7 linked regions of the Homo sapiens genome follow. The protein of the gene in region 4 purifies or fractionates together with the protein of the main gene of each other region. This does not show direct contact. Each region holds a gene or a part of one and is shown on either strand. Other genes may lie near its edges.

Region 1 (3,500 bases), on a different chromosome or scaffold from region 4:
TTGATATACTACATTATACGTCAAAAATAAATAAATAAAATTAAGAAGACAGGGATTCCAAGATTGTAGCTGACCAAGCTGTCTTGTTTTGCGTACATCAACACTATGCTGCTTCCAATATTCCTAGCCATTCCACAGGTAATGATTTTTCAACAATCAAGAGAAAGTCATTCTTGTACTGTAACATCTTCCTCTTCCCCATCGGGGTTGAATCTATTGAAATGTATACTGAAATCAGCCTCAGATTCAGCATTCTCAAATTCAGCTGCGGCTGAAACAGCAGCAGGATGAAGAGCCCTAGCTTCTGGTTGGCCAAGTGTTGGTGTCTGACCCGGGCTGTGGTGGTTATTCACAGGGCTGGACTTCTGTTTCGGTGGAGATGGCAACATAGCACTGGGAAATCCCATGTTGTTCAGAGCCTCCAAAGTTCCATCAGGATCAATCATAGCATTGATTGCTAAAGGGCGGGAAAAGGAAATAATTTTAGATGCAGTTACATTCACATATAAACACTGTTCATGATTTGGATAATATTTAAACTATCAGTGCGTATGTGATCTTAAATGTGGCTAATCTTCCAATATTATATTTAAAACTCCATTCTTAGTTATTCTGTAGCTGTACTGTAAATCACCCAGCCCTGAATACTTTCTCTGGGTCCTTTGATGTGGCACTTACGGGCATTTCAGAGACTTGTAAGTCTGGTATTTGAAGATGTGGAATTCAAGAAAAATCTTGTTGAAATTTGTCTTCATTATTGTGAGAGGACCGAGAAAATACTGAATATGATTTTTAATAAACATCTAAACCCACATCACTCAGATAACTGAGGTATTAGCTGCTAAGTCAGGGTTCAGAGTAACCTCAAGGCTGGAGAGGCCAGAAGAACATCAGCATACTTTGAATGCTACCATAGAATACGGTCATTTAGCCTGGCCAGAGTGCTAGGGTTATCAGCTGTATACACCACTGAGATACAGGGGTTCCCTCAGAGCCTACAGACTAATATCACAGGGCAGCTTGCAAAGCCAAACAGACTTGCTGCCTATATGGAAGGGGTCAGTTAAAGGTCAGCTTTCAGTCCAAAAGATCTTTGGGTTGACATGGAAAGTTCTCAGGCGGTGATTTTCAATTTGGCATTGGGCAGAGTAGGGAGTTGGGAGAAGGAAGTAACATAGATGTAAGAATCATGTAGAAGGGACTTTTAAAAGTATACCCCCAGTCTACCAGCTAACAAGCACTGTGTTAGCAAGCCACTTTTACTCATGGGGTGTACCATAACCCTTAGGTGTGTTGGGGCTAAATAAAGATGAAAAATCATTTTGATAGGATCCACATAAGTACCTATGATTATTCGATAGATAAAGACTCAGTAGAATTAGCAGTTGACTATGGAACCTGCCTGTTGTACCACTGGGGACTTCTGGGTCAAGACATACATAGGCATTAATGCACAGCCCAGCTCTGACAAGTTTAGAGGGCAGCCTCTTTCACTTTCTTCTCTCCTTTCTCTTCTGGTCTCTATGGCCAATATGTACTCATTTCTTGTCAACCAAACAACTATTATTTCTATTAGAATGTAAGTTTGTTTCAGGTTACACCACCAACATAATTTAAGAACTGTCAAATCACACAAATAATGCTAATTAACACAACTTTATTATATATTTTTCACATATTATTTATATGTAATACATAAAAAATTTCAATTAGTTTATGACATCTAGCCTACTGTCAAACCTATGAACTAAAATATGCCCAACATATATCTTTATTACATTTTAAATTTTTATACTGGGTTTAAAAAAATTCCTTTTTATGAATAATGTGAATGTTTGAACTCTGTATTTTATGTATGTCATTACATTTAATCAAATAACATCCTAACAATATTTTAAGAAATACCACTCAGAAGGCACTTATTCTAAATTATTAGCTCTTTATACTTAATTCAGTAGTAAATTTACCTTGCAGCTGCTTTTCTACTCTTTTCAGTTCCTGTAAGATAGAAGAAATCTCCTGCAGGGAAAGCAATAACAAAAATTAGCCTACTTTTAGCTAAATGTTATCACTTTACAAGCAATGAATTTCACTCTCACTTTATTTGGAACACTTAATATTATCTACATGGTACTTACTACATTAATAGCAACATGATATGAAATAATTATGATATCTAGCAAACAAGATTCAAATTAAAATATTTAAACTAAAATGAAATACAATAACTTTTTCAGTGAGATGATTGTAGCAGATGAAAAGTTTAACATTTACTACTATTTAAGCAAAGATTTTTTTTTTTTGAGACCGAGTCTCACTCTGTCGCCCAGACTGGAGTGCAATGGCGCAATCTTGGCTCACTGTAACCTCCTCCTCCCAGGTTCAAGTAATTCTCTTGCCTCAGCCCCCAAAGGAGTTGGGATGATAGGCGCCCGCCACAATGCCTGGCTAATTTTTGTATTTTTAGTAAAGACAGAGTTTCGCCATATTGGCCAGGCTGGTCTTCAACTCCTGACCTCAAGTGATCCGCCCTCCTTGGCCTCACAAAGTGCTGGGATTATAGGCGTGAGCCACAGTACCCGGCCGCAAAGATTTTTAAAATTCTTATTAATCAACCTTGCAATAACTATGTAAAAATGCCTTCAAATTATCTTTGTAAAAACATATAAACTGCAACCTCAATATTATAATTATATTCTGAGCAATGAAAATCTGTACAAATTCTTTTAAAAAGAAGATAAGCATTATATTAAGTAAACGGAAACGACTTATGTCAACTTAATATTTTCATGTTAGATTTGGTTCTCTTTAAAAATTTCATGTTTCTAATGTTTAATTATTACAAGAACAATCTATACTAGTAAGAAACACAAAAGGCTCCTCCTTCATACCCTCTGCAACTTTGAAACAATCAACATTTTAAACCTGTGAGTCAGTAGAAGAAATAAAATTTCCCAAAATTTTGCATTTATATCTTCTTTTGAAAAAGCAAATCAACGAACAGCTCAAAAATAAGGGTCTTTTCCTTAAAATAAAACTCTATTAAAATGTTTTAATCTTCAAGAAAAATTACTATACCATGCTTGAGGTTTTCACAATAGGGACTTCACTTTCGGCTCTTAATTTGCTTTCTATGTCATCCCAATTCCGATCTTTGTCTTTAAATAATATTCTATAAATCAAAAAACATAAGCATATAACTTTTTATATTTTAAAAACCTATTACTTTTTTGTTAATAATACCAAAGCAATGTATCTTTTCAAAGGTACACAAAGAAAAAAAACCAACCACCGCATAAACTGAGAATTAAAATACTAAGCCAACAGTACCAATTAATTCATGTGTATGAGCTCCAATTGAATGCTTATTAATACATGCATAAATTCTTTACTGTTTATCTTATTCTTTATTGAAAACAAAATATAAAACAAATGTAAATGATGTTATGACCTCAAAACTTTAATATTTATAATTTACAATACAGTAATGCCCTCTTATC
Region 2 (3,500 bases), on a different chromosome or scaffold from region 4:
CCTTTCCAAACTTATGAGGTTCCCCTTGTAGGGTTTTCTCCTAAGAATATTATTTAACAGCAAAAAGCATATTAACATTGATGTCTATTATGGCTCCAAATCAGAGACCACTTTAATAAATCAACGGGGTCATGGATTGGTGACTGAGAATAGCCTGCAAACAATCATTAGGAAGCCCATGTGAAAGCACAGGGAACATGTATGATGTAATATTGGGCAAAAACAAAGAAAGGACACACAATGACACAAAATCCAATTTGAAAAATATAAATTCATGCTCATATTTAATAAATGAAAAAATATGCAAATTTTAAAAAATGATCAATGTGTAGAATCATGAACTTTTTTTCTCTGTTCACTTTTTTCATATTATTACATCATCTTTTTGATTAAATTTTAAGATCCTTGTCAATGAGAAATCAATGAACTAATCACTACGAGCGGACTGACCAGGTGCTCCTTAAGAGATTTATTTTTATTTTTTTAACTAGAGGTATCCAAGTAAAAGTCAGTCCAAACTTTAGTACAATACTTGCTTGTAAAGCAGGCTGGCATTCCTCATCCCACTGGATACACACATTTACCCTATGGGTGTCAGGATGATAATCCCAGGATACCCAACGCTCCAGAGAGTCCAGTGGGGTTTAGGAACAGCCCTGGACTCGAAGCTGGAAATGGTTTCTAGCTCCAGCTCTGCTGCCTACTTGCTGTGCCACTTTGGGCAAGCCCCATCCACTCTCTGGGCCTTTGTTTTTCATCTCTAGAGCAAAGAGGACAGGCTGCCTGATTGCTTGGAGTCTAACCATTTACTGGTTTGCTCCACACCCTGGGTGGGCGGGTGGTAGAGGTGTCTGGTCCTCTTTCTCGTACCCCCCACAGCCTCTCCAGGGCTAGGCAATTAACCTGCACACAAATGCAAAACAGATCCACTTTTTAAACCTATCAGGATGATTTTCAGATCCTGAAAGACACTGAAAGCCAGATTAAGATGTTTAGGTTCCCTTCTAAAGGCAGTAAGAGAAACTAAAAGAAATTTCAGCATCAAAGTGATGCAGGCAGGACTAAATGGATAGGAGGGAGCAAGGCCAGAGGCACTGAGGGTGTCTGGAAGTCCAAATTCCACTTCCCTGAGAATCAAGATGCCTCAGATGGAGATTACGCCACTTTGCCCAAGGTGACCGCTAATTAATTAGCAGTCAGGTCCCCTGGCTCCTAGGGTACAGCATGTCAGCTATCAATGGAAAGACACCTCTGTGGGGCAAAGGCATCATTCAGAAGTTCACATGTCACACACAGATGCTCAGAGCTGCATTCTCAGCAAGTGGGGAGAGGCAGGGGCAGTACCGTGTTTGTCAGGCTGAAGGGGCACCTCAGGGATGGACACGGCTTGGACAGCCAGAGTGAGGGCTCCTTCCTGTGCCTTCTCTGCCCCCCTTGCCAGCTGTTCCTTGAGCCTGCTCTGCAGAGTGCTGCTGGTTTCGATGCTCCTTTCTAGTTGCAAGCGCAGAGCCTGGATCTCCATCAGGAGGCTGTGCAGGTCCCTGAAAGGATCCTGCCCCTTCCAGCCTTCTCCCGACGCCTCTGAGGACATGTGCAAAGAGAAGCCCTGACATCTTCCACAACCAAAGGGTCAGCCATCGAAGGAACTCAATCGCATTTTACACTCACCACCACCATCGCCCTCCCCCTTCCTAAGAACTAGGTACAGTTTAAAATAACAACTTGACTTTAGAAACAAAAATATTGGCAGACTTAATTGCTGCTATTCCACACGCTAAATAAGAGCTGGAAATTAATTTTCGCTTCTGGCCATAAAAGCCTAGCAAATTGCACACCAAACCCCGAAATTATGTCTAGTAGTAATAAAATCTATTTGGGCTAGAATTATAGAATGAAAGGGGATGATTTTAAGAGCCACACTATATTAAAAAGACACAACAGCAAGAATAAAAAAAGCAAGTTGAGGAGAAAATAAAAGCTGTGAGATGACCCCTTTCTAGATAAACTTTCAATAGAGAGAAACCATCTGGAAAATTAGTAAAATAAAAAAAAAAAAAAAACACCTCACCACACCTCAAAATTGATTCTGAAACATTAGACGTTATAGTTGAAGCACTCTGAGCTGGTATCTCTCCTGGGATACAGAGAGCAACGAGGCCAACAACCATCCCCAGAGCAATGCCCAGCACGTGAGAGGTGTCCATAAATGTTTGCTGAATGAGTGGGCAAAAAGTAACATATACTAGCAGGACGATTATAATAAAGGTCATTTCCTGGGTGCCTACTATGTGTCAGGTATCTTGCTAGGATGCTTTTAATAAATGGTCTCATTCAATTTTCAACACAATTCTCCACACAACAGGTGCTGAGAGACATGTTTTACAGAGATAGGTATGGGCTCAAAGGGTGAAGTGGCCTACTGAGGGTCACATAGCTGGGAACAAGTGAGTGGGAACCCGGACCTCGGCTGGCCTGGGTGCTGAGCCTCAGTCCTTCTATGTTTCCTGCTGTTCCTTCAGAAGAAGAGTGGGTCAAAGAGCTAGCTTCAACACCCATCCACTCTACCCACAAGGCCAGAGTGGAGAGGGCTGAGCTCTGCCCTCCTGTGCCTACAGCCAGCTGTCGGGTGGTCTTACAGCCCAAAGCACAGTAGCCTCAAGGTGAGAAGGGCCTCAGTACCTCTCAGTCTCCTGTGCTCTTCATCCAGCTTCTCATACGCCTTCAGCTCCACTCGGAGAGACTGCAATAGCTTGTCATTCTGTGAGAGCAGCTGCTGCCTCAACTTCACCTCCTCCTGCACCCTGAGAAGGCCCCACAGGCATGAGAAGGACAGGTTAATTCTACCTCAGGGTAACTTATTCAAACCCCACAGAGCAGGCCAATTCCACCCTCAGTCACAAGAGTGTGGACCAAGAAGTGACAAGCATGGTTAAGAATTCCATGTGCTCTCTAATCCTAATTCCACTCCTCTGCTCAGAATCTCCCAGTGGCTTCCCATGCCACTCAGAGGAAAACCCAAAGTCCTCACACTGACTCTGCAGCCCGATGTGATTTGGTATCCTGCCAGCCCCCTCTCCAGATACACTGCCCTGCTCTGTCCGGCACAGGCCTAAGCCACTTTGCCTCAGGGCCTGCGCCCATTCTGCCTGAAATGATCTTTCCCAGGTAGCTGCAGCACTCACCTCCTCACTGCATTCAGCTCTCTGAGCAAATGGCATCTTTTCACAAAGGCCTTCCCTGACTCACCCTTGACAAAAAACAGCAACCCACTGCCAAGCCCTCTCCTCCTTACAGGATCTTTCTCCATATGTTGTAGGCGCACCAGACGTACAATGTGTTTGTGTCTACTGCCTGCCACTGTGCACTAAGGCAGAGGCCTGCGTGCTGATTCCACGACTGCAGCCCAGTGCCTGCATGCGTGGTACGGCCAGCAGGCCACCAGGGAAGCACAGCCACTACCTGCTCAGCTCCTGGCCGCTGCAGCGGACCTCCTGGATCAG
Region 3 (3,500 bases), on a different chromosome or scaffold from region 4:
TTTGAGGGGCTAAGGACAGGACAAAACCCTGAGGTCCCCTCAGTGGCATCTCAGGGCTCTGTGCTCTGGGATTGTGCCAACCTTTTGAAAGGGGGTCTGGTCTTCAGGGTCTGTGATGTGTAGCCAGGCCTTTACTGGCCTCTGTCTTCTCAGGGTACTCAGGGCAGGAGTATATGCATTCTGCTTTTCTGAAAGTTGCTAAACCTTAAAGGTTAAGGACATGGGCTTGGAGGCTGGCATTTTCATGTTCAAGTTCCAGCTCCATTACTTACTAGCTGTGTGGCCCTGGGCAACTTACAAACCATCTCCACAACTTAGTTTCCTCATCTGTAAAATGGGCCTCCCATCTCCTGGGCTGGTTGCATGGATAATAAAAGAGCTGCAGAGCCAGGCACACAGTGAGCCCTCAGCAGGGTCAGCTCTGGCCATTCTCTAGCCCCCTCATGTGCAGCCCTCTGCTCAGGTGTGGCCTCTGGGCCAGCAGCAGCATGGGTAGCTGGGAGCTCTCTCAGGTCCACCTACACTTTGGGTATCAGAATACACATTTTAACAAGATCCAGTGATTTTTTTTTGCACTTTGCAGTTTGAGAAGCACTGATGTGTGTCTTCTGAAGAGCAGCATCAGTAGCTGCGTGTGCCTCTTCAGGTGCAAGGAATTTTCTCTTACTGTGCCTTTTCTTACTGTGTCCATCATGTCCTGGCTGCAGAGGCACCTGGGACAAGTCCCAGATAATCACCATCTTCATCAAAACCCTTGTGTCCTGAGCATGTGCTGGCTGGGCCTTGGAGAGTTCAAGTGCCCCAGATGGTGCCCCTGACAGAGAGATGAAGTCAAGGTGGGTGCTTTGCAGGTGGAGCAGCTTAGTTCCTGCAGTGAAGGATGTGCCAGTTAGTGATATATGTGCTGCAGGCAGCCCGGACTCTGAGCACCAGGTGGGTGTCAGGGGAATTGTATGGGGGCAGAATCACTGTCCTTCCTCCTGGTTTGGTGAGAGTGTTGTTTCTCCAGTGGTTTCTGATCTAGGAGGCCTAATTCATCTTAACACTCTTAATTTCTAGAAAGTGCTTAATGCTGCCTGCTCCTCCCCAGTGTGTTCCTTTGGTAACTTACCCCCTCCTGGGGGAGGGATGAGTATTTCTAGGGTCAGTCCTCTCAGAAGCAGCGTGTCCTCGGGACTTGGGAAGGCAAGCCTTACTGGGCAGGAGAAAGACACAGGTTTCTCCTGGGTACCGATTGAGTGTCCTTAAGGACAAGCCCAGGTGGAGAGCCCAGGTGGCCGCTGACCTTAAAGTGATGTAAAGCGTTAGGGACCATCCTTGTGGTTCCCACATGGGGTCTGGGTGAATTCACTCACCTGTGGGGCCCCACCCCCAAACCCACTGAGAAATATAGATAACCAGGCCGGGACCTTCTAGTTCAGTAAGTCTGGGTGGCGTCTTGGGTGGATTTATATCTGTATATAAATCCTGCACCGATGCATAGCAGGTTTGGGTGCTACAGCTGTGGAGCTGTGAAAATGAGAGCTGTCTTGTGAGCCATTGTCTAGATGAATGTTGGGGCCTTGGTCACACCCTGATTGATTTTGGCCATGTCTCTGCCCTGGATGAAAGTGACAGGTCAGGCCTCAGCTTGGGCTTTGGAGTTCCTAAGCCCAGTGCCCCAGTCAGCTAGGCCTGGTGAAGGGCACAGAGAGGGAGAAAAAACCTTGATCAGGTAGGGAGGAAGGAACAGTAGCAGAATCTCCAAAACTGGAGACCAGGGCCTATCTCTTGCACAGCCAGACTTGGGAAGTTGAGGTTGGATTTTTTTTTTTTTTTTTTTTTTTTTGAGACAAAGTCTCACTCTGTTGCCCAGGCTGGAGTGCAGTGATATAATCTTGGCTCACTGCAACTTCCGCTTCCCAGGTTCAAGTGATTCTCATGCCTCAGCTTCCCGAGCAGCTCAGATTACAAACGTGTGCCACCACACCCAGCTAATTATTGTATTTTTAGTAGACACGGGGTTTCGCCATGTTGGCCAGGCAGGTCTCAAACTCCTGGCCTCAAGTGATCTGCCCGCCTTGGCCTCCCAAAGTGCTGGGATTGCAGGCATGAGCCACCATGCGCGTCCGAGGTTGAATATTTATTAAAGGATCTGGCACGTTCCCTTGAAGGCTAGGCAGAGCGATCGGCGTCAGGGATTCAAGAGCAGGAGTCCTAAGAGCTCACGGTCGTGGGAGAGAGTGAGAGGATAAGCTGGTTTTGCCAACCAGGCTTGGCGTGCCTTAGCCTCCCAACAGCCAAGAGGATGGTTGTCCCCACCTGAGGGCCAAGGAAGCGGAGGCTGAGGGAGGTGACCTGGTCAGTGGGGGACCCAGCACTCACCACCATGCCCTGCTGTCAGGCGCATCCAGATGAGAGCTGAGAGAGGGCCCTGCAGGGTTGTAACAGCTCCAGACTGTGCATGCATGATTTCTTTACTTTGGAGCTGTGTGCCCCAGGGGATACTCAGTCAATATCCACAAGAAACACAGTCCAGCAAGGGAGACCTTGGGTGCCCAGGACATGACAACACCAGGGGGTCCTGGGGCACGGTGCTGCCAGATCTGGCTGTAGAGTGAGTTTGGTTCAGAGTGTGTATGCCTGGTCAGAAAGAGGAGGGACTGGGCCAGGCCAGCAGGATGGTGGCAGCTGAGGGAGCTTCCCAGAGGAGTGGGACTTGAACTAGGTCATAGGACCCTGCTGTCATATTCCCCGTGGGGGCTTCAGTCTCTAGGGATGAGGTGCTCAGAGCCCATTTGCTCTGCTGCGTGTGGGGCTCTGTGAAAAGAAAGCCTCCATTTGTTTTCATTGCGGATTCCTCAGCCCCCCTCGACAGTGTTCATAGTTTTCCATTCTCCAGTGGACCTCCATGGTGCCCGACAGGTCTGTGGGGCTGTCTGGTCCAGGCACAGGGAAGTAGCACCTCTAGGGAGGGGGAGGATGTGGCCATCTCAGCTCATGTAGGCCATACTTCTGGGAGAAGGTCTGCTCTGGTTGAGTCCCTGGGGTGCCCAGGGTGGCCAAGGTGCCAGGCAGTATCCCATTCAGTCCTGCCCTTGACTGGGTTGCAGAGGGAGGTGGGGCTGGAAGGGAGGTGGACGAGTGATGGCAGCTGGGGTCCAGAGGTAGGTCCTGGCCATTCTCCATTTCACTGTGCTCTGGATGGGAGAGCCTAAAAAATATTCAGGGAAGCTTTTTCTTTTTCCTTCCGTGCTTCCTTGAAAAACAAGTCCAGGGAGAAACCCAAATTCCCTGTGGGGGAGGGCTGGGCAGAACAGGAGAAGGGGAAGTGACCTTATAGGGGAGAGAGGCCCAAAAGGTCCTTGTGGCAAAGGACCTGAAACTCGGCCTCCCGCCTTCCTCTGAGGGCTGGGAGGCAGAGGAGCACGGCCCATTTTGTGGCTCAGGAAGCTGAGATGAGATAGGAGCAAGAGCTTTCCCTTGTCTCTTTTTCCTATTACCACAGTAATATATGCTCC
Region 4 (3,500 bases):
CAGCCCTACCTTTCACCATTGCTTTATCATTCTCACACAAGGGGAGTTTCAAGGGCCTGTCAACACTTACTTTCTTGAGGTTTCTGATATGTTTATCTGCATCACTGTTTCTTTTTTTTTTTTTTTTTTTGAGATGGAGTTTTGCTCTTGTTGCCCAGGCTGGAGTGCAATGGCACGATCTCAGCTCACTGCAACCTCTGCCTCCCAGGTTCAAGTGATTCTCCTACCTCAGCCTCCAGAGTAGCTGGGATTACAGGCACACGCCACCACGCCCAGCTAATTTTTGTATTTTTAGTAGAGACCATAGTTTCACCATGTTGGCCAGCATAGTCTCAGTCTCTTGATTGACCTGAACTCCTGACCTCAGGTGATCCACCCGCCTCAGCCTCCCAAAGTGCTGGGATTACAGGCATGAGCCACCATGCCCGGCCCTGCATGACTGTTTCTTAAAAATAACCCCCAATCATTGTGTCTTTTTTTTTTTTTTTAAGACGGGGTCTTGCTGTGTCGCCCAGGCTGGAGCACAGTGGCGCCATCATAGCTCACTTCAACCTCCGCCTACCGGGCTCGAGCAATTCTCTCAGCTCAGCCTCAAGTGATTCGCCTGCCTCAGCTACCCAAAGTGCTGGGATGCCCTAGAGATGTTTTCTTGTTATCGCAACTGGGAGAGGGAAGTATGTGCTTCTGGCATCTAGCCAGGGATGTTACTAAATATCCCGCATTTCACAATAACAAATAATTAGCCAGCCTAAAACATCAACACTGCCAAAGTTGTAAAACTCTGTTATAGAGGAAAGCAACAGAAAATAAACTAGTATAAACCAGTAAATTGCCGGGGCCGGACACTGTGACTCATGCCTGTTATCCCAGCACTTTGGGAGGCTGAGGCGGGCGGATCACGAGGTTAGGAGTTCAAGACCAGCCTGGCCAACATGGTGAAACCCCATCTCTACTAAAAATACAAAAATTAGCCAGGTGTGGTGGTGCACACCTGTAATCCCAGCTACTCAGGAGGCTGAGGCAGGAGAATTACTTGAACCCAGGTGGTGGAGGTTGCAGTGAGCTGAGATTGCGCCACTGCACTCCAGCCTGGGTAACAGAGCAAGACTCCATCTCGGAAAAAAAAAAAAAGAAGAAGATAATTTCATATAATGGTAAGAGCTGAGAGCAGGGTGGCTGCATTCAACTGAGTGCTTTTTTTCTAATTTGCACAAGGTTCCTGCATGGGCCAGTAGCTGCTCTGGCTTAAGGTAAAATAAAGTGCTGGGTTGGTCGAGGATGGATACTTAAATTGGATGCAAATGAAGACCTGTCTGAGGAGAGGACATTATATTTTATTTTATTTTATTTTATTTTATTTTTTGAGATGGAGTTTCATTCTTGTTGTCCAGGCTGGAGTGCAATGGCACGATCTCGGCTCACTGCAACCTCCGCCTCCCAGATTCAAACAATTCTCCTGCTTCAGCCTCCCTAGTAGCTGGGATTATAGGCATGCACCACCACGCCCGGCTAATTTTTGTATTTTTAGTAGAGACAGAGTTTCTCCATATTGGTCTGGCTGGTCTCGAACTCCCAACCCCAGGTGATCCTCCCGCCTCAGCCTCCCAAAGTGCTGGGATTACAGGCATGAGCCATCGTGCCTGGCAGGAGAGGACATTTGAACTGAATCTTTTTTGAGACAGAGTTTTGCTCTTGTTGCCCAAGCTGGAGTGCGGTGGTACGATCTCAGCTCACTGCAACCTCTGCCTTCCAGATTCAAGCGATTCTCCTGCCTCAGCCTCCCAAGTAGGTGGGATTACAGGCGCTTGCCACTGCACACAGCTAATTTTTGTACTTTTAGTAGAGACGGGGTTTCTCCTTGTTGGTCTGGCTGGTCTCGAACTCCCGACTCCAGGTGATCCTCCTACCTCAGCCTCCCAAAGTGCTGGGATTACAGGCATGAGCCATCATGCCTGGCAGGAGAGGACATTTGAACTGAATCTTTTTTTTTTTTTTTTTGAGATGGAGTTTCGCTCTTGTTGCCCAGCTGGAATGCAGTGGCGCGATCTCGTCTCACTGCAACCTCCCCCTCCTGGGTTCAAGCGATTCTCCTGCCTCAGCCTCCCAAGTAGCTGGGATTACAGGTGCATGCCACTGCACCCAGCTAATTTTTGTATTTTTAGTAGAGACGGAGTTTTGCCATGTTAGCCAGGCTAGTCTTGAACTCCTGATCTCAGGTGATCTGCCTGCCTCAGCCTCCCAAAGTGCTAGGATTACAGGTGTGAGCCACCACACCCGGGTGAACTGAATCTTCTATGACAAGGAGTCGGCCATGTAAAGACCGGCATTTTAGATAGAGGAAATAACAAGCCTGAAGGGCCTGGGACAGCAATGAACTTGGTATAGTTAAGGAGTAAAAGAAAAGACCAGGCTGGGCATGGTGGCTCATACATGTAATCTAAGCACTTTAGGAGGTAAAGGCAGGAGTGTCTCTTGAGGCCAGGAGTTCAAGACCAGCCTGGACAACATAATGAGACCTCATCTTTACAAAACAAAAATCTTTTTTAACTAGCCAGGCATGGTAGTGTACACCTGTTAGTCCCAACTGCTTGGGAGGCTGAGACAGGAAGATCGCTTGAGCCCAGGAATTTTGAGGCTGCAGTGAGCTGTGATCACACCACTGTACTCCAGCCTAGGCAACAGAGCAAGACCTTGTCTCAAAAAAAAAAAAAAAAAAAAAAAAAGAATTCCTTCTGGCTGCTCAAGGACTATAAATATATAAATATAAAGCGATTTCTCTTCCATGCCTCGGTGTTTTAAAAATTCTGTGGAGTATTTCTGCTTTCTCCTTACCTATAATGTAAAATGCTCTCAGTAAAGTGACTGATTAGCAGGCTTCTAGGAAATCATCAAAATGAATGGAGGCAGAGAGGTCTTCCTGGAAAGCTCTCTGTGCTTTCCACATTCGGAATTTTCTGAATCTAAGCTGCTAACCTGAGGCTTTGGGTTTTGGAAAGCACATGCTACAACAGAGTTATTTAGCAGCAACACAACAAGCAAGGGAGGGATGGTAAGTGTAAAAAAAAAAAAAATCATCTCCATGTTCAGTTCAGAACTATATGCCGTGTGGCTATCCTGAAAAGGGCAGGTGTTCACTTGCCCTCTGGGTAAAAGTTCCCAGTCCTCACCATGAGTCCAAATCTCCTGGGGACCTTTATGAAAAAAATGCAAATGCTGGGACCCCACCCCAGAACCAGTGAATCTGGATCTGGACTCAGGGACAGACCTGGATATAAGCAAGTTATAAGTTCATTAGATGATTTTAATGTGTAGTCAGGGCTGGGAATCCTTGCCTTCTGGAAATCTTGAGGAATTTCAGCTGGTTTGGCCTAACTATTTTGGATATGTTACTTTTCAGGATAGCATTGGGCAGCTGGAGAATGATCTGAGGAACACCAAGAGTGAGATGGCACGCCACCTTCGGGAATACCAGGACTTGCTCAATGTCAAAATGGCTCTTG
Region 5 (2,984 bases), on a different chromosome or scaffold from region 4:
TGGTTAAGTAAAATAACACATCAGGTGGACTTGGGTTATCAGAGTTCTTCCTTCTAGCTCTGTTCCTTAGGCAACTGCTCTCCTATGCCTCAGTTTTATTATCCTTAAAATGGTCATAACAATTTCTACCTCAGGATGATTCATATAAGGATTAAATATGATAATGTATATTGCCTAGCTCAGTGTTTGTTCCAGAGTAAAAACTCATTAAATGGTATCATTATAGAAAACCTCCCATTGAGAAGTAATACTGGTTTTGCTCTATTTTTAGGAGTATATGCAGGAAAAATCCAAAGAAAGCGGCCAAATGTTGCGACAATTTAAGAAGACAACATTCATTAGGATAAAATGGGGGGAAGGATTATTATTCATGTTATTTTCCCTGCCCAAGACTTTATTTAACCCTGGACTCCGTTTACACAGACAAAGTGACATCAGAAGGCTGAGCACTTATCTGGATCATTTGGTCAGTTTGGTAATTCCTGCTCCACACCCCTATTTTCCTCTTAATAATACGTTTGGGTGAAGACAAATTAGTGTTTAGTAATTGCATCATCTCTGTGCTTACCTATACAAACATAAGTTTATTTTATATGCCCAGATGTCTACAGAGACCCTTTTTGTAAATGTCAAGGACATTTGGATTTACTTTTACAGAATATTGAAAAGATAAGACAAATTATAAATAAGTTCTAAAACATAAATTTAATTCATCTCTGCATAGTGATTTTTGAATTTGATTCAAAGGGAAATTATTGCAGAAGAATGCCTTTCCCTCATTTTATAACTTTAAAAACTTGGATTAACCACTCAATGTCCACTTTCTTTGACTTACAGTATAACCATGTAGCCAATTGTGGCCCACTAAAATCTACAGAAGTTAATGTGGGTCACCATTTTGGTCAGAAGCATACATTCCTGTCAGACAACTAGTTGTCTGACAGAAATGTTAGGCTTCATGTATGTTACCCCAGTACTGTTAGAAACATTTGTACTAGGTTATAAGATCTTTCTGTGACAGGTAACAAATTTGGGGAAGACAGCACAATCTTCTTGAATGTAGCTCTTGGGAATGCATTATTACATCCATTTCTGTAACATAATAATATGTTGCATGCAGTTATATTTTCTATTTAGTCTGTATATTTTGTTCTTCATAGTCTGTTTTTTCTAGCATGCTTGATTTAGGAGAGAATAAAGGGCTATATAATAATAAATCCAGATTTCCGGATAAGAATATTGCCTGGTTAAAATTCTGCATTGCTTAAAGACACCCATGTTTAAGATTTTTCATCACTAACATATCCATTAAAAGTATCAACTGGCCAGGCAGGGTGGCTCACGCCTGTACTCCCAGCATTTTGTGAGGCCAAGGTGGGTGGATCACCTGAGGTCAGGAGTTTGAGACCAGCCTGACCAAACATGGCGAAACCCCATCTGTACTGAAAATACAAAAATTAGGCATGGTGGTGCATGCCTGTAGTTCCAGCTACTTGGGAGGCTGAGACAGGCGAATTGCTTGAACCTGGGAGGCAGAGGTTGCAGTGAGCTGAGACTGTGCCATTGCACTCCAGTCGGGTTAACAGAGCAAGACACTGTCTCAAAAAAAAAAAAAAAAAAAAGTATCAACCAACAAATGTTACCAAGATAACGTGACTTCATGAGGGAGAATGTCACTATTAATTTATCATACCATTTCCAAAAAGGGCTTTGTGCTTTTCACATAAAATTGAGACAGTGTATATTTAATCTAATTTAAATTTTAAAGAGATACTGGTATTTTGAAAATGCAACCTATATATATTCTTAATATCCTTTTAAGAATATGGAGATGAAGATTGTTTTCTCCAATTTTCTGTGCCATTTTAAATTTAACTTTGACATCCAGCTATAGACAGAAATAATAAGCCACCCTGGGTGTAAACTTGATTTTCTTTATTGAGATGTATCATGTATTGAATGAGTGAACCAGAAAATTAGAAGATGGTCAAAAAAAGTCCAAGTTACCAATTTTTTAAAATTTATAGGCAAAGTATCAAATTGTCTTCTTAATATGATAAACTGTGCTTTATCATTCTGAAAACTCAGGATACAGCTTATTCATAGCATTGTGGGTCTCTCCAGTAAGAAAGATGCTAAAAGTTTTGTGCACTTTTTGTGTGTGTAATGCAAATTAGTTAAAACAAATAGTTTTGGAGAAAGTTAAAACTAGCTTTAGAGTAAGGATGAGAAACTTGAGTGTTTTTAATTTAAAGATAAAAGCCTGTGTTTTACACATTCTTTTTTGGTGTTCATAGCTTCTTCTCATACAGGTGCCAGACACTGTTTGTGCTTTTGATGGATTTTTATTTATATACTTTTTTTGCTTATTTTTACTTTGAGTGGAATGTTCATTAATGTAAATTGTATTTATTTTTATACTTTTATTTTCACTAGTTTTGCTTCTAGGCAAAAAGCAAAATAAACTTTTCATCTTAAAGAAAATCTAGTTTGATTGTTTTTATTTACCAGGGGAAGGACTATTAAGAAATAGGCCGGGCATGGTGGCTCATGCCTGTAATTCTAGCACTTTGGGAGGCCAAGGTGGGTGGATCATGAGATCAGGAGTTTGAGATCAGCCTGGCTAACATGGTGAAACCCCGTCTCTACTAAAAATACAAAATTAGCTGGGCGTAGTGGTGCATGCCTGTAGTTCCAGCTACTTGGGAGGCTGAAGCAGGAGAATCGCCTGAGCCTGGGATGGGGAGGCTATAGTGAGCCGAGATTGTGCCACTGCACTGCAGCCTGGGTGACAGAGCAAGACTCCATCTCAAAACAAAACAAAAAAGAAACCGATATTAGCCAGGCATGGTGGTTCACATCTGTAGTCCTAGGTACGCTGGAGGCTGAGGCAGGAGGATCACTTGAACCCAGGAGTTACAGGTGGCAGTGAGCTATAATCGCACCACTGCACTCCAGCCTGAATGAGACTTTGTCTCCAAAAC
Region 6 (3,500 bases), on a different chromosome or scaffold from region 4:
TGACAAACCTGAGAAAAACAAGCAATGAGGAAAGGATTCCCTATTTAATAAATGGTGCTGGGAAAACTGGCTAGCCATATGTAGAAAGCTGAAACTGGATCCCTTCCTTACACCTTATACAAAAATCAATTCAAGATGGATTAAAGACTTAAATGTTAGACCTAAAACCATAAAAACCCTAGAAGAAAACCTAGGCATTACCATTCAGGACACAGGCATGGGCAAGGACTTCATGTCTAAAACACCAAAAGCAATGGCAACAAAAGCCAAAATTGACAAATGGGATCTAATTAAACTAAAGAGCTTCTGCACAGCAAAACAAACTACCATCAGAGTGAACAGGCAACCTACAAAACGGGAGAAAATTTTCACAACCTACTTATCTGACAAAGGGCTAATATCCAGAATCTACAATGAACTCAAACAAATTTACAAGAAAAAAGCAAACAACCCCATCAAAAAGTGGGCAAAGGACATGAACAGACACTTCTCAAAAGAAGACATTTATGCAGCCAAAAAACACATGAAAAAATGCTCACCATCACTGGCCATCAGAGAAATGCAAATCAAAACCACAATGAGATACCATCTCACACCAGTTAGAATGGCAATCATTAAAAAGTCAGGAAACAACAGGTGCTGGAGAGGATGTGGAGAAATAGGAACACTTTTACACTGTTGGTGGGACTGTAAACTAGTTCAACCATTGTGGAAGTCAGTGTGGCGATTCCTCAGGGATCTAGAACTACAAATACCATTTGACCCAGCCATCCCATTACGGGGTATATACCCAAAGGACTATAAATCATGCGGCTATAAAGACACATGCACACGTATGTTTATTGCGGCATTATTCACAATAGCAAAGACTTGGAACCAACCCAAATGTCCAACAATGATAGACTGGATTAAGAAAATGTGGCACATATACACCATGGAATACTATGCAGCCATAAAAAATGATGAGTTCATGTCCTTTGTAGGGACATGGATGAAACTGGAAATCATCATTCTCAGTAAACTATCGCAAGAACAAAAAACCCAACACCGCATATTCTCACTGATAGGTGGGAATTGAACAAGGAGAACACATGGACACAGGAAGGGGAACATCACACTCTGGGGACTGTTGTTGGGTGGGGGGAGGGGGGAGGGATAGCATTGGGAGATATACCTAATGCTAGATGATGAGTTAGTGGGTGCAGCGCACCAGCATGGCACATGTATACATATGTAACTAACCTGCACATTGTGTACATGTACCCTAAAACTTAAAGTATAATAATAATAAAAATAAATAAATAAATAAATAAATAAAACCCACTTACTATTTCTGCAATACTTTGTTTTACTTAAAGGCCAGTAGTATCAAAATAAAAATCAACTTTTATAGTTTTATCACTTACACATCATAGTTGCTATAGGAGTGGCTATAAAATGAATATCCATTGCTAAAATTGGATCTTTCGTTATTGCATAAAAGGAGACATTTCTATTAGTCACAACTACGATATGGTAAAGGCACAGTATGTCTCAGTTACACACAGGCTGAGCCATTCAAAGTATCTGTGAAATTCAATGGAGCATGTAGAACCGTTCCAGCAACCACTTAAAACCTGGCAACTCAAAGTACAGTTTCTGAACCAGTAGCAACACCTGGGAGCTTGACAGAAATGAGAACACATGGACACATGGAGGGGAACATCACACACCGGGGCCTGTCAGGGGGTGGAGGGTAAGGGGAGGGAGAGCATTAGGACACATACCTAATGCATGTGGGGCTTGAAACCTAGATGACAGGTTGATAGGTGCAGCAAACCACCATGGCACATGTATACCTATGTAACAAACCTGCATGTTCACCACATGTATCCCAGAACTTAAAGTAAAATCAAACAAACAAACAAGAGTCAAAAAAAGAAAAAAAGAAGCACGATCTTAGGCCCTGCTGAAGACCTACTGCATATGAAGCTGTAGTTTAACAGGCTCCCGCTATGATTCGTAAGTACATTAAAGATTGAGAAGCAAGACTTAAGACACTAAACTGATCTCAGGAAACAAAAGATTTTTAGAAAGTTTAACTCAAAAAAACAAAACAGTATAAATGAGAGTAAAACTATTACATTACATACTAAACAACTGTAATTGAAGAACTGCTGTACCGTACCTTAAGACCTGAACTCCAAAGATCAAGCACATTTTCCATCTTCTGAAGGTTTTCATCAGAAACAAGAAAATCGCTCACAAGTATTTCATGGGCATCTGTATGACTAGAATTTGTTGCTGGTGAGGAAGAGTCAGCTAAAAGATGTGAACTGAAAAAATCCATGACTGGGTGAGAAGGCTTCCTTGGCGATAACACTGGTGATGACTCTGAATAAAAGAAAAGTTGTAGCTGTCAAGCCAAATTGAAAATAACTCAAGTTGGTAAGGAACCATACTGGAAGGCTAAAAGACGTCTGCTACTTATGGAGGCTGAGAAAAAATGCAGAGAAACTACCTTTCAGGTGTACCTTAATCTATTTTTAATTTCAGTATTGTCAGTGATTTAGCACAGACTGGCATGAGATACCTCCTATACTCCCAATCCCTTCTCTCCCAGCAAATGACCTCTATCCCAGATAAGGATCCTTCATATATCCAGGTCCAGCCTGAGGTGAAACTATCATCATCTGTATCATATCACCATTAATGAAGTGCTTTCTGTTTCTGTAATAAAAACATTATAAAGATTAGTTCTCATAACACATGCTACCCTAAAAAATAGGTATTATTATCTCCATTTTACTGATGAGAAACTGAGGTTCAGAAAAAGTTAAGTAATTGACCAAGGTCAGTGTGGTTGTATATAGGTCAATATTACTCTGTAAGTTTAACACTGGGATTGGTTTTAATACTATTAAAATTCGGCCGGGCGCGGTGGCTCATGCCTGTAATCCTAGCACTTTGGGAGGCCGAGGCGGGTGAATCATGAGGTCCAGAGATTGAGACCATCCTGGCCAACAAGGTGAAACCCCATCTCTACTAAAAATACAAAAATTAGCTGGGTGTGGTGGCACGCACCTATAGTCCCAGCTACTCGGGAAGCTGAGGCAGGAGAATTGCTTGAACCAGGGAGGCAGAGGTTGCAGTGAGCCGAGATCGTGCCACTGCACTCCAGCCTGTGACAGAATGAGACTCTGTCTCCAAAAACAAAAACAAACAAAAAACCTATTAAAATTAAACAATTTAAGTAGAAAGAGACTCATAATTTAGTTTTGCAGATACTCTGTTGTTAAGTACACTGTTAGGCTTCAATGTAGAGGTGAGAAATGTACACATCTCTATATGTATGTGCATATATATAAAACGCTCATCCCCTGCCCATATCCAGGGAGGTGGGGGAGAGTCAGGGCCCTAAAGAGAACAGGTATCTATTTCTAAAAAAGCACTGAAAGGCTGGGCACGGTGGCTCATGCCTGTAATCCCCGCACTTTGGGAGGCTGAAGTGGGCGAATCAT
Region 7 (3,500 bases), on a different chromosome or scaffold from region 4:
AATCTCAGGTTCGAATCCTGGTTCTGGAATTTACTATGTGTTCTTAGGCATACATTCTTATCTGTAAACTGGAGATCATAACAGGGTCTGCCTTCTGAGCATTAAAGTAAAAAGCATATGTAAGGCATTTAGCACGGCATCAGGCACATAGTAAGTACTCAATACACAATAGTTACCACCATCATCGTCAAAAGAAATTCCACTAAGACTAGAATATCCAGCCTATAATCGTGAACCATCACCCATCATCATCAGGACTGTCAGATATAGCCTGTTAAGACTACAAGTACCAGCATGCATGTAGCAAGCATGCATTATGCATGCAACAAGTTCCAATCCCAGCTACTAATTCATATGGCTAATCACCTTATCATTTCAGCTCTAAGAGACTTGAGTGAAGTGGCTGGGTATGGTGGCTTATGCCTGTAATCCCAGCACTTTGGGAGGCCAAGGCGGGCAGATCACTTGAGGTCAGGAGTTTGAGACCAGCCTGGCCAACATGGCGAAACCCCGTCTCTACCAAAAAAATACAAAAATTAGCTAGGCGTGGTGGTATACGCCTGTAGTCCCAGCTACTTGGGAGGCTAAGGTGGGAGAATCGCTAGAATCCAGGGGGCAGAGGCTGCAGTGAGCTGAGATTGTGCCACTGCACTCCAGCCTGGACAACAGAGCGCGACCCTGTCTCAAAAAAAAAAAAAAAAAAACACGAAAAGAAACTTGAGTTAGTCAATTTCATACCTTTTTTGGCCATGCCCTACACCAGAGGTCCCAAACCAGATTGAAAAAAATCACCCAGGAAATTTCTGAAAAGATTTGAGTTCCACCATATATCTACTGAATCAAAACCTCTGCAGGTGAGTCCCAGAAATCTTTATTTTATTTTATTTTTTATTTTTATTTTTTGAGATGGAGTCTCACTCTGTCACCCAGGCTGGAGTGCAGTGGCTTGATCTCAGCTCACTGCAACCTCTGCCTGCTGGGTTCAAGCAATTCTCCTGCCTCAGCCTCCCAAGTCGCTGGGACTACAGGCATGCACCACCATGTCCAGCTAGTTTTTTGTATTTTTAGTAGAGACGGGGTTTCACCATGCTGGCCAGGCTGGTCTCAAACTCCTGACCTCATGATCTGCCTGCCTTGGCCTCCCAAAGTGCTGGGATTACAGGGGTGAGCCACCGTGCCTAGCCTATATTTTAAAATAATTCTTCAGATGACACTAATATTCTAATGATGATACAATTTGCAGAGTTTCTCAAACCGACTTGGTAGCAGAGCCTTTTTTTTTAATAGAATATCTAGCTGAATTAGTGTTCTAAGGAACACACTTTGGGAAACAGTGCTCTGGTGCAACTCAAATTATAATCTCCCACAATCCACCAATAGCCCACAGCTCTCTAGAAGTAATTAACAGCTTCCAGTGGAATTAACCCAGTCCAATCTTCTCACCAGTGTCTCTCTTTCCCGTTGCTGCAGTCTGGCACTTTCCTGCTCACGATTCAGGGCCTCCATGGCCTCAGAAAGGCTTTGTTCCAGGCGGGTTACTGTCTTTCAGGAAGAGAGGAATACAGGGCAGAGGAACTGTGGGAAATCTGTGTGTGCTATATTTTATAAAGCATTGACAATGTAAACTTGAAACTTCACAGTTAACTAAATGACTAAGGGGCCAGATAGAAGACTACATGGTGTGGGAAAAATTAAGACATTGATGATTCAAGTTGGACAGCAGAAACGGTTAAAGGAGAAGAAAGGAGGGATGAGAAGAAATGTCAGGACAGCCACTACAAGACTGAGGTCAATCTGTTGGAAACCCTAATTCCAGAGCTATTTCTGCCCCTTTCCATCTTGAGATCTGTGACTCAGGTTCTAATGCCATATGCTCCAGGGCGCTCACCTCCTGCTGCTTGCTTCTGGTGAGCTCTGCTGCCTGGTGTTCCTCTTGAAGTCCCCTGAGAACCTCTGTCCGCTCAGCCTCATGCCGGTTCCAGCCCTCCACCACACGGGCCAGGGTCTTAGGTAGGGCAAGTAAGATGAAATTTCAAAATAACTTTTTTGCCTCTTTCTACCCACAGGGGCAGGGTCAACAGCCATCTTCTCCCAACAGTCAGCAAACCAACCCCTTGCCCAGCTCTCAGCATGTACCAAGAAACATTGGTTGGCCACCCACTTATTTATTATTCCTTAATGCTCTTCATGGAGAGACCCACCCACATTTTGCTACCCTGGTACCTTGTCCAGTTGTTCAATCATGGTATCTTTCTTGCGGTCGGCAGCCACAGCCACGGCTAATTGTTGCTGTAGCTCTAACACTCGGGTCTGCAGGCTCTGAATATGGCGCTCACAATGCTGGGGAAAAGGGTGAGGAGTCTGGGTGTTGCCCATCTTTGGTATGACCACAGCACCAAACTTTCCAGCTCCTCTAGTGGGGGAGTGGGCTGGAGCCAAGAAGCTTGGGTCCCAAGAACAGAATAGGTCTGGAGAGGGAGAATCAGGAAAATTCTGAAGCAAGCACCTTGAGGCTCAAGATCTCCAACATGTTTCTGTACCTTTTCAGGAGATAAGTGCTTAGATTCCAGGCTCCTCCTTTTCCTGGATCTCCTGAGTAAAAATCCCATAAACCTTTTGGCAGAGATGCAGCAGCCCACACAGCAAAATGTGCAAAGTTACTCCTACCTTCAGAAGCTCATTGGACACAATGAATAAACACAGCAAGGATAAAGGGGAAAGCCTTTCATTCATGCCAAGGGGTTTAACATGGAGAAAGAGAGGCTTCCAAAAATGGCAACCAGTGATTTTGACTTTTCCTCTCCTTTGTCTATTTCTCTGTCCCCTTCAGACACTAAGGCAGAGGCTCACAGAGATAAAGCTCAGTATATCACCAGTAGCTGTAAATCCTGTGCACAAGCTAGCAGAGTTTGTGTCCATTCGACAAACACAGAGTGTTTCTGTGTTATGTATATTCTAGACCTTAGGCAGCCAGTACTAAGACAAACAAGATACGGACCCTCAAATTTTAGAGAGGAGAAAAAAACAAGATATATCAGAACGATAAGCTACATGAAAGAAATAAGAAGGCGATCTGACTACTTGGAAAGGAGGTGGTGCCATATTAGATGGAATGGTCAAAAAAGCCCTCCTCAGAAAAACATTTAAGTCCCAGCTTTCAGGCTCTTAACCCTCAGCCCTTTTCTTTTTTAGTTTTTTTTTTTTGAGACGGAGTCTCGCTCTGTCGCCCAGGCTGGAGTGCAGCGGCATGATCTCGGCTCACTGCAAGCTCCGCCTCCCAGGTTCACGCCATTCTCCTGCCTCAGCCTCCCGAGTAGCTGGGACTACAGGCACCCACCACCATGCCCGGCTAATTTTTTCTATTTTTAGTAGAGACGGGTTTCACCGTGTTAGCCAGGATGGTCTCGATCTCCTGACCTCGTGATCCGCCTGCCTCAGCCTCCCAAAGTGCTGTGATTACAGGCGTGAGCCACCACGCCAGGCCCCCTCAGCCCTTTTCA

Evidence for each region.
Region 1: the proteins of INA (region 4) and CEP170 purify together in Homo sapiens (co-immunoprecipitation; one large-scale study listed by IntAct). This does not show direct contact.
Region 2: the proteins of INA (region 4) and CDK5RAP2 purify together in Homo sapiens (co-immunoprecipitation; one large-scale study listed by IntAct). This does not show direct contact.
Region 3: the proteins of INA (region 4) and RAB11FIP5 fractionate together in Homo sapiens (co-fractionation; one large-scale study listed by BioGRID). This does not show direct contact.
Region 5: the proteins of INA (region 4) and CCP110 purify together in Homo sapiens (co-immunoprecipitation; one large-scale study listed by IntAct). This does not show direct contact.
Region 6: the proteins of INA (region 4) and POC5 purify together in Homo sapiens (co-immunoprecipitation; one large-scale study listed by IntAct). This does not show direct contact.
Region 7: the proteins of INA (region 4) and CNTROB purify together in Homo sapiens (co-immunoprecipitation; one large-scale study listed by IntAct). This does not show direct contact.

The regions. Positions count from the first base shown.
Region 1 is NC_000001.11:243,126,282-243,129,781, forward strand, and holds part of CEP170 (centrosomal protein of 170 kDa), read right to left. Parts: intron 3,173-3,500; coding exon 3,079-3,172; intron 2,020-3,078; coding exon 1,968-2,019; intron 458-1,967; coding exon 168-457; 3' UTR 1-167.
Region 2 is NC_000009.12:120,405,668-120,409,167, forward strand, and holds part of CDK5RAP2 (CDK5 regulatory subunit-associated protein 2), read right to left. Parts: coding exon 3,460-3,500; intron 2,802-3,459; coding exon 2,680-2,801; intron 1,582-2,679; coding exon 1,345-1,581; intron 1-1,344. UniProt on the Homo sapiens protein: Potential regulator of CDK5 activity via its interaction with CDK5R1. Negative regulator of centriole disengagement (licensing) which maintains centriole engagement and cohesion. Involved in regulation of mitotic spindle orientation.
Region 3 is NC_000002.12:73,092,449-73,095,948, reverse strand, and holds part of RAB11FIP5 (rab11 family-interacting protein 5), read left to right. Parts: intron 1-3,500. UniProt on the Homo sapiens protein: Rab effector involved in protein trafficking from apical recycling endosomes to the apical plasma membrane. Involved in insulin granule exocytosis. May regulate V-ATPase intracellular transport in response to extracellular acidosis.
Region 4 is NC_000010.11:103,283,638-103,287,137, forward strand, and holds part of INA (alpha-internexin), read left to right. Parts: intron 1-3,397; coding exon 3,398-3,500. UniProt on the Homo sapiens protein: Class-IV neuronal intermediate filament that is able to self-assemble. It is involved in the morphogenesis of neurons.
Region 5 is NC_000016.10:19,550,925-19,553,908, forward strand, and holds the end of CCP110 (centriolar coiled-coil protein of 110 kDa), read left to right. Parts: intron 1-271; coding exon 272-347; 3' UTR 348-2,484; downstream 2,485-2,984.
Region 6 is NC_000005.10:75,700,438-75,703,937, forward strand, and holds part of POC5 (centrosomal protein POC5), read right to left. Parts: intron 2,374-3,500; coding exon 2,168-2,373; intron 1-2,167. UniProt on the Homo sapiens protein: Essential for the assembly of the distal half of centrioles, required for centriole elongation. Acts as a negative regulator of centriole elongation.
Region 7 is NC_000017.11:7,935,206-7,938,705, reverse strand, and holds part of CNTROB (centrobin), read right to left. Parts: intron 2,469-3,500; exon of another isoform or gene 2,377-2,468; coding exon of another isoform or gene 2,341-2,376; coding exon 2,224-2,340; intron 2,006-2,223; coding exon 1,889-2,005; intron 1,543-1,888; coding exon 1,444-1,542; intron 1-1,443. UniProt on the Homo sapiens protein: Required for centriole duplication. Inhibition of centriole duplication leading to defects in cytokinesis.